Linked DNA regions of Homo sapiens. The protein of the gene in region 2 purifies or fractionates together with the protein of the main gene of each other region. This does not show direct contact. Each region holds a gene or a part of one and is shown on either strand. Other genes may lie near its edges.

What was found. Proteins that work in one complex are often made in the same cells at the same time.
Region 1: the proteins of WDR90 (region 2) and HELZ purify together in Homo sapiens (affinity purification with mass spectrometry; one large-scale study listed by BioGRID and IntAct). This does not show direct contact.
Region 3: the proteins of WDR90 (region 2) and PASK purify together in Homo sapiens (affinity purification with mass spectrometry; one large-scale study listed by BioGRID and IntAct). This does not show direct contact.

What each region holds. Positions count from the first base shown.
Region 1 is NC_000017.11:67,069,657-67,075,045, forward strand, and holds the end of HELZ (probable helicase with zinc finger domain), read right to left. Parts: 3' UTR 788-5,389; downstream 1-787. UniProt on the Homo sapiens protein: May act as a helicase that plays a role in RNA metabolism in multiple tissues and organs within the developing embryo.
Region 2 is NC_000016.10:655,142-659,777, reverse strand, and holds part of WDR90 (WD repeat-containing protein 90), read right to left. Parts: coding exon 4,631-4,636; intron 4,472-4,630; coding exon 4,310-4,471; intron 4,206-4,309; coding exon 4,075-4,205; intron 4,006-4,074; coding exon 3,889-4,005; intron 3,477-3,888; coding exon 3,241-3,476; intron 3,047-3,240; coding exon 2,907-3,046; intron 2,688-2,906; coding exon 2,557-2,687; intron 2,017-2,556; coding exon 1,886-2,016; intron 1,596-1,885; coding exon 1,434-1,595; intron 1,269-1,433; coding exon of another isoform or gene 1,254-1,268; coding exon 1,125-1,253; intron 883-1,124; coding exon 767-882; coding exon of another isoform or gene 693-766; coding exon 652-692; intron 534-651; coding exon 402-533; intron 165-401; coding exon of another isoform or gene 1-164. UniProt on the Homo sapiens protein: Microtubule-binding protein that plays a crucial role in ensuring inner core protein localization within the centriole core, as well as in maintaining the microtubule wall integrity and the overall centriole roundness and stability.
Region 3 is NC_000002.12:241,125,186-241,129,821, forward strand, and holds part of PASK (PAS domain-containing serine/threonine-protein kinase), read right to left. Parts: intron 2,267-4,636; coding exon 1,011-2,266; intron 1-1,010. UniProt on the Homo sapiens protein: Serine/threonine-protein kinase involved in energy homeostasis and protein translation. Phosphorylates EEF1A1, GYS1, PDX1 and RPS6.

The DNA of each region.
Region 1 (5,389 bases), on a different chromosome or scaffold from region 2:
AGCGAGATACCTAGCTTAAAATGGATTCACCGCAATGAGTACAAATGGTACATTGTCCTTAGGAAAGGCTGACCGTCCCATCTACTTACATTTACAAACTTGAAGCACAGTACATTCAAGCTAGATTTATGGTGCCACATTAATAGGATGTTAAAAATAAAATAGCCAGGGCACACAAAGCCTTCTGTGACCTGCTAATGCTTCTCAAAATCACATCATGGCAGATGCAAAGAATTATTTCCCCAAGAAAAACAAGACCTTGACTCAGGGCAATTTTCTGCACAACCAGCATTTTTTTTTTTTTTTGGATTGTTGAATTAATGTTTGGCACGCATTACTGTGAAGTGCATGATTATACCTACATAATATATCACTACAAACTAGGTTTATGAGTTCTCAAATAAATTCTGGGCCGCATTAACAACTAAGTGACTTGTTAAGAGTAATTCAGGATAATTTTCTTAAATTTGTAAGATATTTGTTGAATGACTGTTTGAAAAGGGCTTATTTTCTCACTGACCACTGGAGATCTTTAAACTTTCAGGTAACACGTTTAAGTCTTAAAAGCATTACTGCTGAAGTTAGGGGATTTAAGCCAAGTCACAAATGTCTGGAAAGTAGAGTTAGAACTTTACAAATTCACACTGAGTTCTCAGTTACATTCGTTTTACCATTTACTATTAGGAATAAAATCAAAGGGCTGTGCTTAACTTCAGTCAGACCTTTGACCTTAAGGGCAGAAGGAAGCAGAGAATTATAGTTCACACATAATAAACACATCTCCAAATTATTAAAAAGGCATTTTATTATAAATACATTTTAGTTGTAGCAGTAAAATACATTTTGTTACCATGAATCTTTGAAAACAAAAGAACTTCACTGAGACAATGAGCACACTGTAGGAACTGTAGACCCCAAGTTGAAAACTTGTTCTATGGAACCAAAGTAGCTAACGTAATTCCAAAACTAAGTTAGAAAAGATAAAGACAAAGAAAGAAGAAAATAAAAACCCTAGAGAGTGGCTTTGGGGTTATTTTATGGTACAAAGTCACTTTTACTTTTAAGGATAAACTCTTTAGGTATTAGAGCCTCTTAGATGAGGTATCATTTACTGCAAAGAAAAAAAATTGTTATAATTTTGCCATAAGTTATGCCTATTTAGATGGCTGTATAACTGGTACTTTGAAGAGATGAACCTGACCACCTCAGTTTTGTACAGCTTCCCTCAGGAAGACTTCCCAAAATAAGACTCAGTATGAATTTGCTAAGTAACTGATCTATGAAGTTAGCTGAACAAGTTTAGATAAGAACTATATGTATGAAGCATTAAAAAAAAATCCTGTGTCACTAATAACAGGACCCTTTAATAAAATGCAAAACTCATTATCTTTATAATTTAGAAGAGAAGTATTTTAATCACCATATTTACCTAGGATACAACTACTACATATAGCCAGTACCTTTATGGGGTTTAAAGAATCAGGTCAGATGACTGGCACAGAAATCAGATACAGTACAATGTCATATACATGGATTTATAGGAAGCAGGCATGGTCTGGATTTATGAAAATCCAGGACCCTTCCTCTGTAAAGGGGGAGGCTGAGAAACATTCTCAGCTGCACTGACACTTTGGGACTTCAACCAGGACAAAGAGCCCTCTGACCTACTGAAAGATATAAAGAGGTCTTCGCATACAAGTTATCGTGCAAAGCAAAGTGTAAATAAACCGAAGCTCCCCTCTAAGTTGGGACTGCATAAAGGAACCCAGGCTGAAAATATAAACAATCCTCTCCAAAGGTGAGCAAGCCTTTTCAGTAGGAAGGACTGTGTCTTAAGAAAACTCCAAAGCTGTATATTCTACGATGGTCTTCACGTGTACTTTTACACCTAAGTCATTCTGTATTCTATTACCATAAAAATAGCTTTTTTTTGTCTTTCTAGTAGCTCAGTAAATTCAAAGGCAAACTAAAAACCAGAAGCAGAGCCCAGTACCCCCCAAGATGCAGTCCAGATAAAACAGCAACAACACACAAATTAAACAATACCCAAAGACCTGACAGGTTTATTATATTATAGGCAGTTTCTTTCTCAAAAATAACTTGCTCATACATGTGCACCTATGACTTATGAATAATTCATGCTGTGTAGGTGGTAGATCCCCCTAGGCTGTTTTGCAAACACATATAGATTTTTTTAAAGGTAGCAAAGTAATCAGAGACATTTATTTTCTGCCATATGTAACACTTCAGGCTCTCTCTAACACCTGCTGGCATGGCAGAGAATCTAAAATAACTTTGTTAACCTGAGAAACACATAATTTGAAAAACAAATCCTTTGCCCTCACCACCCTCCCCCACAAAAAAAAAAAATAATAATAACCATAAAAACTAAAACATTTGCCAGGCGCAGTGGCTCATGCCTGTAATCCCAACACTTTGGGAGCCCGAGGCGGGCAGATCATGAGGTCAAGAGATGGAGACCATCCTGGCCAACACGGTGAAACCCCGTCTCTACTAAAAAATACAAAAATTAGCTGGGCGTGGTGGCGCATGCCTGTAGTCCCAACTACTTGGGAGGCTGAGGCAGGAGAATCACTTGAAGCCGGGAGGCGGAGGTTGCAGTGAGCCGAGATCATGCCACTGTACTCCAGCCAGGGCAACAGAGCGAGACTCTGCCCCGAAGAAAAAAAAACAAAACTATTATTTTATTATTTAAGGATTATCTGTGGTTTTCGATGCTCCATGTCACTGCCATCTTAGGACAGGGACTCCTGCACTTAGTGCCTCGATACATGCTAGGTGCACTCTCATGGCATTCTGATGGCTTCTTTCCAGGATTCTCACTTCCATGCATGTGGATCAAGATTGACCCTAAGCACACCAAACAAATGCACAGCTTCCAGACTGATGTCCAGGCAGCAGCGTACACAAAAGCAAACTCACCCTAAAACCAAAGAGCTCCTTCACCCTACTGCGGAAGAGCAGTGCAGACCCCAGCAGGGGTGAGAGTGAGGAGGGGTGGTGGCCAATCCAAAGGGCCTGTCGCTCCATGGAGACCTTTCTCCACAAATGTTCCAGTCATGGCACCAGATTTATAAAAATGTCTCCAGAGATCAGTTTTTTACACTGAGTAAATAAATACATGGTTGAAAAGACGTTCAGACTCTGAAGGTCTCTGAGACTTTCAAACTGCGAGAATCAGACCCAGTGATTTTCAAAGTGTGGTTCCTGGACTGGCAGCATCAGCATCGCCTGGAAACTTGTTGGAAATGCAAATCATCAGGCTCCAGACCAAAATCAGAAATGCTGGGGGTGGGTCCAGCTATCTGAATTTTAACAAGACCTCGAGGCAATTCTGATACTGGCTGAAGTTTGAGAACCATTGCTCCATCCTGTTCACAATTCTCAAATCTTAAAACAGGACAGATCTGTAAATAGTACTATGTGACTTCTACTCTGTGTTGCAACCTATGTAATTTGCCACCCTTTCCCCTTTACTTCTCAAACATTAAAAAAGTATTAATGAAAACACTTCATAAAATCAAAAATTTCTTAAAAGGTAATATCGATTTCCCCTCCTCTACATAGTTCTAAGGCAGGCAATCACATGCTAGTATGCAAAGTAAAATACAGAAGAGACCTCATATATGAGGTAGAAACAGTTAAAAAGACTCCCCACGAACATAATGAAAATTTCATAATATTGTTTAATGAACTCATAGAATTATATAAAACTTACTATGCTTTATGCTTAATATCTGTATCAAAATAAAATCTCTCTGTTGAACAAATTGCAAATAAAGTCTGGTCTAATACTCTGATAACTGAAACTATATGAATGTCTCTGGGTTTTCTTAACACTCCAGTTTTAGACGCTTTAGACGACCACTGCGGAACTGGGTTTGGTATTTAACCACAGTTCACATTTCTAAGTCTAGATTCTTCTATTAGGTACCTCCCTCCAAAAAATTTTTAGAAACTCTGGTGACTGTTTCCTTAAACTTCACTCCAAAGTAGACATTCTCAATTGGTTCAAAAATTTTAAACGTTACATTAAAATTGTTTTTAAATCTCTTGAATCTCATATTCTAGTTTAAAGTAATAACAGGATGTGTTTAGTAAGATTCACTCCTTGCAACAATGGTCTTGACATTACTGATTAAAAAGGTATGAAAGTAGAAAGTGTGAATTTAGCAGCTTTAAAGTCTCAGCTAATAAATGTCCATCCTCAAGCAGATGGGAAATGTGAGGAGCATATCATAATGAGCATTTTCAAGACTAACATGCCAGTTACTCTTTCAAGATGGAGATGGTGTCTTTGTAAGTGATTGGCACCACTACGTGATATTTTGAACAAGAAATCGTAGATAGAACATTACCTATTCTTTCTAATTTCTAGGCGGTTTGAATGTGGATCAGATGGCAAAGAGTGGAGACAAATCAGATCCATTAAGACATTTATACCTTGAGATTCAGGAAGACATATAGCGCGGCAGTAGAAATTAAGGATTTTCATATGTTAAGGGGATGGTGAGCAAGAAATAATGTACGGTAAATCATAAAAGACAAATTACTACCATTGAGGAGCTGGAGGGAAAAAAAAAAACACAATGGCTAGCTTACATGACATTTGAAAGCACCAATTTGTATCTTTCAATACATTTAAAGTTTTAACCTTGTATTTTTATAGATTCTTTCTGGGATTCCCTTTTTAAAAATAACTCCACTATAAAACAATGCTATAGAAGGTGTCTGTTTTTAAATGAGTATTTCAGTAAGTCTAATTTTCTTAATAACAATGGTTGAAATACTAAAATTTATCTTGAAATTGTTCTTCACACCCTGACTCTTAACAAAGGTGGCTCGCTCTAGCTAAGGGGGCTAGAGAAACATCTTTTACGTCTGCAGCTTTGCTCTTGACATGAAAAATATTAAACACATAAAATCAACTACACTAGAGCAACACAATACTATATATTAATTATCCCAAAGTTGGGAAATTCATTAGCTTTCTCAGCAGCTCCAATGCCTCCATAAAAAAGGAGAGTATTTTCATAAATTGGTCTTAGATGTTGCTATGTTTAATTAGGTAATGCTTATTCAGTGGGAATTCTGCTTATTTTACTTATTCTGCAGTTCTCTGAACTGAAAAGACCAGTTGATGTTTACATTAAACCTAAACTTATTCTAAAATCTGATGATTTAAAAAAAAAAAAAATCTACACAAAGCAGTTTGTTATTTCACGTGTAAAAAATGACCTGGATAGAAAGCACATCTGTGTGAGGAAAGGAAAATTAAGGTCATGTTAGTTTAAATGGTCAATAATTAACTACTGATTAATCAAAAACAAAGTTCTGCTATAACAATTTGGCAAAGCATATGCCCAAA
Region 2 (4,636 bases):
AGGCAGGGCAAGCCCCCAGGAGCCCACTGCCGCAGCCCAGGCCCCGTCTCCAGCCCTGCCAGCCTCCTCCTCCGTGAGCACAGGTGGGCCTGAGGCCTGCCCAAGCCCCTCGGGGTCACAGCTCTCCTCACAGGGTCCTTCCTCATCTGACGGGGACAAGGTGCCTGGGGCCAAGGGGGAGAGGAAAAGCTGCCCCCATCCCGACCCCACCGTGTTCCACCTGATGAGGCTAAGGAGGAGAGGAAAAGCTGCCCCCACCCCGACCCCACTGTGTTCCACCTGATGAGCAGCGATGGCACCTGCACCCCAGAGCTGGACGTGCGTGAGTACCTGCTGCCACTGGGCCTGTGCCCTCTCAGACCCCCGAATCCCCCCACTCCTCCAGGACCCCTGCTGCTCACCATCGCCACCTTCGGGAGGCCTGGCACAGACGCCCAGCCGTGGTGGAGATGCCTGACATGGCTTGGGGACCTGCTGCCGGGGGAGCTCGCTGGCCCTGGACGCTGCGTCCTCCAGCGGTCCTGCGCCCGGGCCTGGGGAAGAAGCAGCCCTGTGATGTTTGGGAAGGAAGAGGAAGGGCCACTAGGCAGACACAGGACGGGCCCCAGAGTCAGCGCAGCACCTGCACCCCAGCTGAGCACAGCCACTCACCTGTCTTGCAGGCTGGGGGGGCCCCGGGGAAGCTTTGGTCGCTGGAGAGGGAGGAGAGAGGGTTTCAGGAGGGCCTGGGGGGCCTAGGCAGACACAGCTGAGAGTAGGCACTTGCCTCTCAGTAGGGGCCAGGACATCCCAGAGGAAGACGGCGTCCCCTGCGCTGAGGACCTGCTGCTGGTCAGGAGAGAAGGCCACAGCCTGCACGGGTTCCGAGTGGCCGATGTACACCTAGGGGTAGCGGCGTCACATGCAGGACCCCGAGGCGGGGCATGGATGCTGCCGTGTGCCCAGTCCCCAGGGACGGTGAGCCCCACACAGTGTGAGGCCCCGGAGGCACAGAGGATCCTTGGGGGGTCACTCTCACCCCTCACCTTCTGCTCTCCCTGCCCCCACCCACACCTGCAGGGGTCTCCAGGGCCACCTGAGGAGGCTCCTGACCGCCAAAGCCACCTGCCTCCCCACGCACACACCTGGGGGCCTGGGCTGGCCTGTGTGGCGTAGTCCCACACCTTGATGGTCCGGCCGGCGGCAATCAGCAGGAAGCGGGCGTCCTCACTGAGCGTCAAGGAGGGGCAGGGCTCAGGGTGGACACCGGGCAGCTGGAACACAGTGCTCTTGGGAAATGCCGTGTCTCAGGAGAGTGGCCAGCAGCCTGGGGCCTCCCTTCGTTGTGGGTGTGGCGACGGCCCCCCACCCAGCTGGAGAGGCTGCAGGCACAGAGGCCAGGCCTGGACAGCACAGGGAGGGCCAGGTCGGCGGGCCACAGCCCTGAGGCTCACCTCCCGGATGATGCGGCCCGACACAGCATCCAGCACCACGACTCTGTTGGACGAGGTGGACACCAGCAGGTGGCCCAGAGCTGCAGGGCCAAAGCACACAGCCATGGCTGAGTCCAGGCGGCTGCTGGCCAGGTCCAGAGTGCCGATGTCAACTCGCAGCAGCTGGGGGTAGTGGTAAGTGGCCGACAGTCAGGGCCCCTGGGCAGAGCCGGTGCCACCCAGGGTCAGGCTCGGGAGGGAGGTCCCGGGGACACGCACTCGGCACCCAGGCAGCACCTGCCCTGCACAGGAACCTGGCCGCACGTGGGCCCCACATGGCTGATGTGTACTCTGCGACAGGAGGCGGGACAGGGCCTGGGTCCTGCTCCCGAGTGGCCGTGACCTCCCTCCTGCCCCTGCAGCCAGCCTCTCATGGCCCAGTCTCCCTGGACCCAGGAGGGCTGCGGACTCACCTCATCAAGGGAGGCCGAGCCCATGACTGTCACTGTGCACCTGGAGGGTCCCACAAAGGCCAGCAGGCGGCCATCCCTGCTGACTGCCAGGGCGCTGGGGCTCGCGGGGGCATCCGGGCATACCATGTCCGCTGTGGCCACACGGGGCAGGGGTCAGCTGGGTGGGGAGTGCCGGGGTGCGCGTGGCCAGGGCCCGAGGAGGCCGCCGCCCCTGCCCCCACTTTCGGGAAACACCAGCCCCGGAGCACAGACGCATCACACCGGCAGAGGATTGCCAAGGTGCCAGTGGGCGCCAGGCGCTGCCAGGGGAGCTGGGAGTCCCCGTGGGCCAGCAGTAGTCATAAGTGACCACTCAGGGGGCCCAAGTTATGGTGGCCGCAGGACAGGGCAGGTGCCCATGCCTGGGTCTGACTCCAGCTGCTGACCTGGAGCTTGGGCTGCCTGCCGCCTCCTGGGCACAGACCCGAGCTGACCTCTGGCCTTGGGGTCCAGTGAACGCTAAACCACAGTCTCCTCAGGGCCTTGACAAGGTTACTGAGGCGGCCACGCCCCCCCACAGGACCCAGTCGGTGCACCAGGAAACCGGCATGTGTGTCCAGGTGTGGGCCTGCACCAGATCCAGGCCTCCCCCGCCCTGAGGAGTCCCCCAGAGTGGCTGCAGGGGGCCCAACCTGCCACTCGGAGGACATGCCACTGGGGGTCCGCACAGCTGTACTGGGCCAGGGAGCCCTGGGAGCAGGAGCTGAAGAGCAGGCGGCCGTCAGGGGTGGCGGTCAGGCCGGTGACAGCTCCTCGGTGGCACCTGCAGCACACACAGGGACCCCGCTGGCCCTAGCCCCGAAGCCCAGGTACCATGGGTTCCCTCGACCTCCAGCCAACCAGCCTGGCCATGGAAGTCCCCATGGGGCAGCAAAGGGTGGGGCTCCAGCCAGCACTGGCCATCCTGCACATGACCCCCACCTGGCCACCCCAGCTTCCACCGTGGGGTCTCCGTGGGGCTGGTGGCCAGCTGGGCACTTACGTGTGTTCCACCAGGACCTCAGCGGCCTCCAGGCTGAAGGAGCGCACGGCCCCACTGCTAAAGCCACAGAAAAAGGTTGGCCTTGTGGGGTGGAAGGTGACAGCGCACGGGGCGTCCTCTGATGATGTGAAGTCGTATAGCTGTGGGACAGGGGCCGTGCTGAGGGGAGGGCAGGGATCTCAAGGGCCCAGGGGCTCTCCAGGCGGCCCAAACCCATGGGGCCGACACAGGCTGGAAAGTCCAGGTCCCTATAGGCCCCTCTCACCCCCGCTGACAAACCCCAGCTTCAGGACCTCCCGGCCCTCCCTGCCGTGCTGCCCCTGCCAAACCCCACCTGCTGCAGGGTGGCCAGGTCCCAGATGCGGACGGTACGGTCCTGGGACACGGTGGCCAGCTGTCCCCGCCTCTGCTCCATGGCGAGGGCCAACACCGGGGCGGTGTGGGAGCGAGCCAGCATGTGGTACACCCGGGACAGCGTGTCCAGGAAGCCCAGGTGGCCCGAGGAGGTGGCAGACAGCACACGGAGGCCATCGGGGCTGACACAGACTGAGCTGACGGGGCCCTCGTGCTCTGTGGGTGGGGTGGGGTCAGGGGCCTCCAGGGCCACCCCGGGGTGAGCCGCATGCTCAGGCTTCGGGTCCCCGACACCCCAGCAAATGCACTCCCTGCTGCTCAAAGTCCCAGGCTCCACACGGCTGCAAGATGCAGCTCCCTCGAGGCCACCACTCTTAGGCTAGGCGGGACCCAGGCTGAGGGGCTTCACACACTACCCACGTCCCACCGGGCCCTTCCGTGAGGCTGCCCCGCGGGCCGCCCTGGCATCAGCCGCCCCAGGGCTCTGGATATGCCACTTGGCCCCGTGGCACCCTGTGCAGCCAGGAGCCAGGGCGGCTGACAGCAGAGCCCCGGGGACTGGGCCTTCCCCGCCCCAGCATCCAGGCGAGGCTCTCCCGGAGTTGGGAGAGCGTGCCCACAGCATCACCTGCCTCCAGGAGCACCGAGGAGAAGTCCAGGGGCCAGAGCCGCAAGAAGCCGTCCTCAGAGCCCACAGCACACATGGCCGGGGAGACGCTGAGGCTGCTGATGGCAATGCCGGGGCCTGGGGGCAGGGAGGCGTCAGTGCCTCGGTGTCCCTGCCACCCTGGCCACGTGGTGGGCGCCCTCTTACCTGAGCTGAAGGTCTGCTTCTGTGGGTGGGGACCGCCTGGAGTCCGTGTGGGGAGCAGGCGGCGGGCATGCCGCACGACCATGCGCTGACAGTCAATCTCCAAGATGTGGCCACTGCGGCTGCACACGAAGCTGCCCGAGGAGGCGGCAGGGAAGGTGAGGCCCTCAGGGAAGGGGAGGCCCAGGCACCAGGGCCCCCATGCCGGGGCAGGCCGTGGGGAAGGGCAGGGACTCACAGCATGGCAGCCGAGGGCTCCGGGCAGCCGTCCCGGGCCTGCTTGAAGGCCAGGTCGGTGAACTGCAGCGCGTGGTGCTCCCCTAAGTCCACGGGGCAGGAACGCAGCACCCCGCCACGCAGCCGCCAGAGCCGCACACTGCCCTGCCCGCACGACGCCATCCTGCAAGGAATGAGGACTGAGCACTGCCGCAGCTCGCAGCGCCCTGACCCACCGGGAGACGCAGAGACGCACAGCCAAGCCAGGGGGAGGTGCTCGGGCCTCGGCCCCCACTCCGGGCCCAGACCCTCTCCCAACATCGTGGATGGGCGGCTGCATCACCTGGTT
Region 3 (4,636 bases), on a different chromosome or scaffold from region 2:
AGCTACTCAGGAGGCTGGGGCAGGAGAATCATTTGAACCCAGGAGGCGGAGGTTGCAGTAAGCCGAGACCATGCCATTGCACTCCAGCTAGGGTGGACAGAGTAAGACTCTGTCTCAAAAAATAAAAAAAATAGGCCGGGCACGGTGGCTCACACCTGTAATCCCAGCATTTTGGGAAGCCGAGGCGGGCGGATCACGACGTCAGGAGAACGAGACCATCCTGGCTAACACAGTGAAATCCCGTCTCTACTAAAAATAGAAAAAATTAGCCGGGCGTGCTGGTGGGTGCCTGTAGTCCCAGCTACTAGGGAGGCTGAGGCAGGAGAATGGCATGAACCCGGGAGGCGGAGCTTGCAGTAAGCTGAGATCGCGCTACTGCACTCCAGCCTGGGCAACAGAGAGAGACTCTGTCTCAAAAAAAAAGAAAAAAAAAAAAAAAAGAAATGAAAATAAAAAAGAAAGTAAAACAGAATCAATCTCAAAGGGGCAAGCAGAGGGGCCCGATCACATGACCCTCACAGAAGGGCAGGTTTTTCAGAGATCAGGGCAGCCTAAACACCAAAAGCACGGAAGAAGAACACGTGAGCATCTCACCACGCTCACATCCCTCTCGGCCTGTCTGTGTGACCACTGAGGTGGGGGCTGGTGGGAGGTGGAGAGACAGACTCTAGCGTGACACCCCCACGCTTCTCCTGCTCCCGACGGGATCTCCCCAGGCTGCTGGGAGGAGCGGCTCTCTAAGTGTATGGCCTGAGTCAGGGGGCACAGCTGGAACTGACGGGCATGGGGCAGGTGGCCTGGGACCTTGGGCGCCACCCTCCCCAGGCACACACATTCGTAATCTTAATTTTCTAGGGGTGGATGATATGCATTCTCCTTGAAAACATGATTTCTGCTAACACTATTCCAGGGTGAAACCCCATCAGACCCCAGAACAAGGAAGGCCCTGCACCCCCACTGCACTGTGCTCTGGGAGCACCACACTTCTTCCTATGGGGCCCGGGACATACTCAGCCGTAAGCCATCTCGATGGTAGCAGCTCCCGGAGTAGGCACCCTCCTGGATCTCCCGCTGCAGGCCAGCAGCCCCGCGCATCACGATCACGGGCGTGGAGGTGACCTGGACGTTCAGCCTTGGCTCCTCTGCTGATGGGCACGTGTCCTCAGGGCCAGCATCCAACGTGGAAGGAACGTGTCCTGGGCTTTCTCTGTCGCTTGCTGCATAATGCTCAGAGGACACCAAACAAACCTCAAGCGGTTCTGTTGGATCATGTCCCACACAGCTCTCCCGGAACCGTCGGCCTTGGCCAAGGTCAACACAGGTGCCGGTCAGTAGTAACAGCTCCCTGTCATCCAGGACACACGACCCCTGTTCCTGGAGACTGCCTACATCTGGATCGGAGCCCACTGCCAAGGAAGAGGGTGTCTCTCTGAGTTCAGACGTAGCACAGGAACAATTTGATGACGTTTGGTCTGTCTGGTCACTGAAAAAGAGTTCCTTGAGGTTCCAGGAAAACGAATTCACATCAACCTCCTGGGCCTCCACTGCTTCCAGGCCCCCAGGGAGGTCCGTGGCCAAGGCATAGCAGGCTGAGGAGCTGCCCGTGCAGCCACCGCACAGGTCTCTGCCTCCCAGATCGCAGGACGACACAGGAGCGGTGACAGCCTGGCACTCTGTCGGAACGAGTTCGGCGTGGGGGACATCCAGGGCTCCTGCAAGGCTCAACTGGGACAGCTGCTCCTTAATCAAGCAGGTCTGCAGCTCTTCTCGGTCGTTTTCCACTCCCAGCCACGGCTCATCTAGAGTAGGTGTCCCAAACGAGAGGCCTGCCATCCCAGAGGGGCTGGGGGCCAAGTCCTGGCTTCGCCACCACAAGCCCCATTCACTCCCATAGCAAGGGCAGTGCATCAGGAGGCTGCCCCCCGCCAGCTGACCCTTGGCCTGGGGCTTGGCCACGGCAGCCCCAGCCCAAAGGTCTGAACCGCTGGGACCACTGACTCCCATCCGCTCTAGCTGGGCCTTCTGACACAGGCCACACATGCCAGCATCACTGCCCCCATCCTCAGCTGGGACTGGAGCTTCAGAATCTTCGCAGGAAGCAAATGGCTTCACATCCACTGGTTCAGACCTGCTTTCTCCCAGAAGATCCTGTCCGGGGCTCTCTATTGCCACAGGTTCCTCTCTCCCCAAGGCAGTGATTTGCTGGTCCTTGGGCAGCGCCTGTTCACCGTGCACTGGCAGGCTTCCTTCTGGGACATTGTCCACCCTGGGGATAATGACATGGGTGACCATCATGTAGGGCCACAGATGAGTCAAAAGGAGAGATTGCACCGATTCTCCATTAGAACTAAGTACAAAGCATTTAATGCCACCAATTTATAACAAGAAAAAGACCAAATTTTGTGACCAAGTTAAAAAATAAAGCACTTAGTCTCAAATTTCTCCAAATTAAGTCCACATTTAGAAATGATTTTGCAGAGAATGCTACCAAAAGCCCAACAGTAAAGTACAGGAGAACTTGCCAATGCTTTGGTCAGCGCTCTCGCTTCATCTCAGGGCCCCCAAACCCCCCGTCAGCCGTGCAGCCTAGCCTCGGCCCCACCTGCAAGGGGAAGTCCGTGCTGCTGCCTTGAGGAGGTGTGAGAGGAAACGAGAGAGAGATTGGAGAGTCCCTGGTAAACTCCACAACAGTAAAAAAACAACTGATTGACTACAAACACCATCCGATTTCACAGCCGACTAGGGAAATGGCTCTCAGATTTGGGAAATGGCTCTCAGATGGGGCCCACACAGAAGGGGCCAGGGGCCAGGGGGCCGGGCGTGGTGGCTCACGCCTGTAATCCCAGCACTTTGGGAGGCCGAGGTGGGCAGATCACTTGAGGTCAGGAGGTTCGAGACCAGACTGGCCAACATGGCAAAGTCCTGTCTCTACTAAAAATACAAAAATTAGCCCGGTGAGGTGGCAGGCACCTATAATCCCAGCTACTTGGAGGCTGAGGCAGGAGAATGGTTTGAGCCTGGGAGGCAGAGGTTGCAGTGAGCTGAGATTGTACCAGCTCACTGGTGAGATGGGTGACAGAGTGAGACTCCGTCTCAAACACAAACAAAAAAAGAAGGGGACACGGGCCGAAAAAGAGAGAGGAGGCTGGTGAGGGCGGCTCCTAAGAGGTGGCACACAATGTCCTCCAGCATTCAGCACATGGTGACCCATGAGGAGGCTGCCACAGTCCAGACAGGATGATCACAGAGCCAAGGGACCCAGGCCTCCTGTCAGCCCAGCCACTGGCCTCCACATGACAGACTGACACTGGGCACCAGATGCACAGAATGTGACCGCACCACCTCACTCGGGGACAGACACACAGGTTAACATCAGCAACCTAATAAAGGTATACCAGAGGCTCAGAAAGAGGACAGGATCGGGCACAGTGGCCCACACCTGTAATCCCAGCACTGTGGGAGGCTGAGCCCAGGAGTTCGAGACCAGCCTGGGCAACATAGTGAGACCTCGTCTCTACAAAACATTTAAAAATTAGCCAGCGTGGTGACACACACCTGTAGTCTCAGCTACTTGGGAGGCTGAAGCGGGAACCTCGCTTGAGCACAGGAGTCTAGGCTGCAGTGAGCTGTGATCGCACCACTGCACTCCAGCCTGGGCAATGGCCAAGACCATCTCAAAAAAAAAAAGACGGAAGAGGAAGGATACAACCCAAGGGTGGGTTCCACAGAGAAAGGGATTGTGAGCCAAGTTCTGAGGAAAAGCAGTTTTCTGAGGGGAACTGAGGGGGAGGCTGAGGGTCTGCGTCTGCCTGCCTCTCTCCCTCCATGTCTCCCGCCTCTCTCCCTCCATGTCTCCCATCTCTCTCTCCCCTGTACCTCCCTCTCCCGCTCTCCATCCATCCCATGCTTGAGACAAACCCCATGCAAATGCTAGGAAACTGCACATCCTCCTGCAGGATCAGGTAAGACAGGAGGCGAATGCACACCACGAGGGTCTCACAAAGCCCCTTGCCAAAGAGTCTGGGCAACTTCTGGGGCACAGTCCAGACACAAAGCTGAGGCCCCTGGGCAGCACTGCATCTTCACCCATGCTCTTGGGGCCTTAGCGGGCTGCTGCAGCCTCAGTACCCGTTCTCTCCACAGTCACCTGGGTCCACGGCCCTTCCATCAAAACCCTTGGGCCAGATGTGTTTGGGGATTTCAGAAAAGTCATATGACCACTTGCTAGGGAGACCCCAGCAGGCTGGGGAGAGGGCTTCACGGGCATCCACTGCCCTGTGTCTGCAGCAAGGCCTCTGAACACTCAAACTGCAGAGGTCAAGGGAAAACCACAAACAGCTTCTCACGTGCTTAGGGCCAATTTGACCGTCCAATGCTTTTAGCATCAATTCTAAGAAAAATATTTCAGTGTTGGGGGCTTTTTGGATTTCATAATTTTGGCTAAGAGATTGTGAAACTGTGGATCTCTGACTTTCAGCATGACAGCAACTCAGGAAACATGAGGACATCCTCCAGCTGCCCTGGCAGCCAGGCATCGCCACGCCACTCAGTTCTGGCCAGCATGCAGTCAGGGCATGAAGGATGTGATCTGCCGACTGCACACAGGCCTTGAGCTGCTGGGACCTCAACCCAGGGC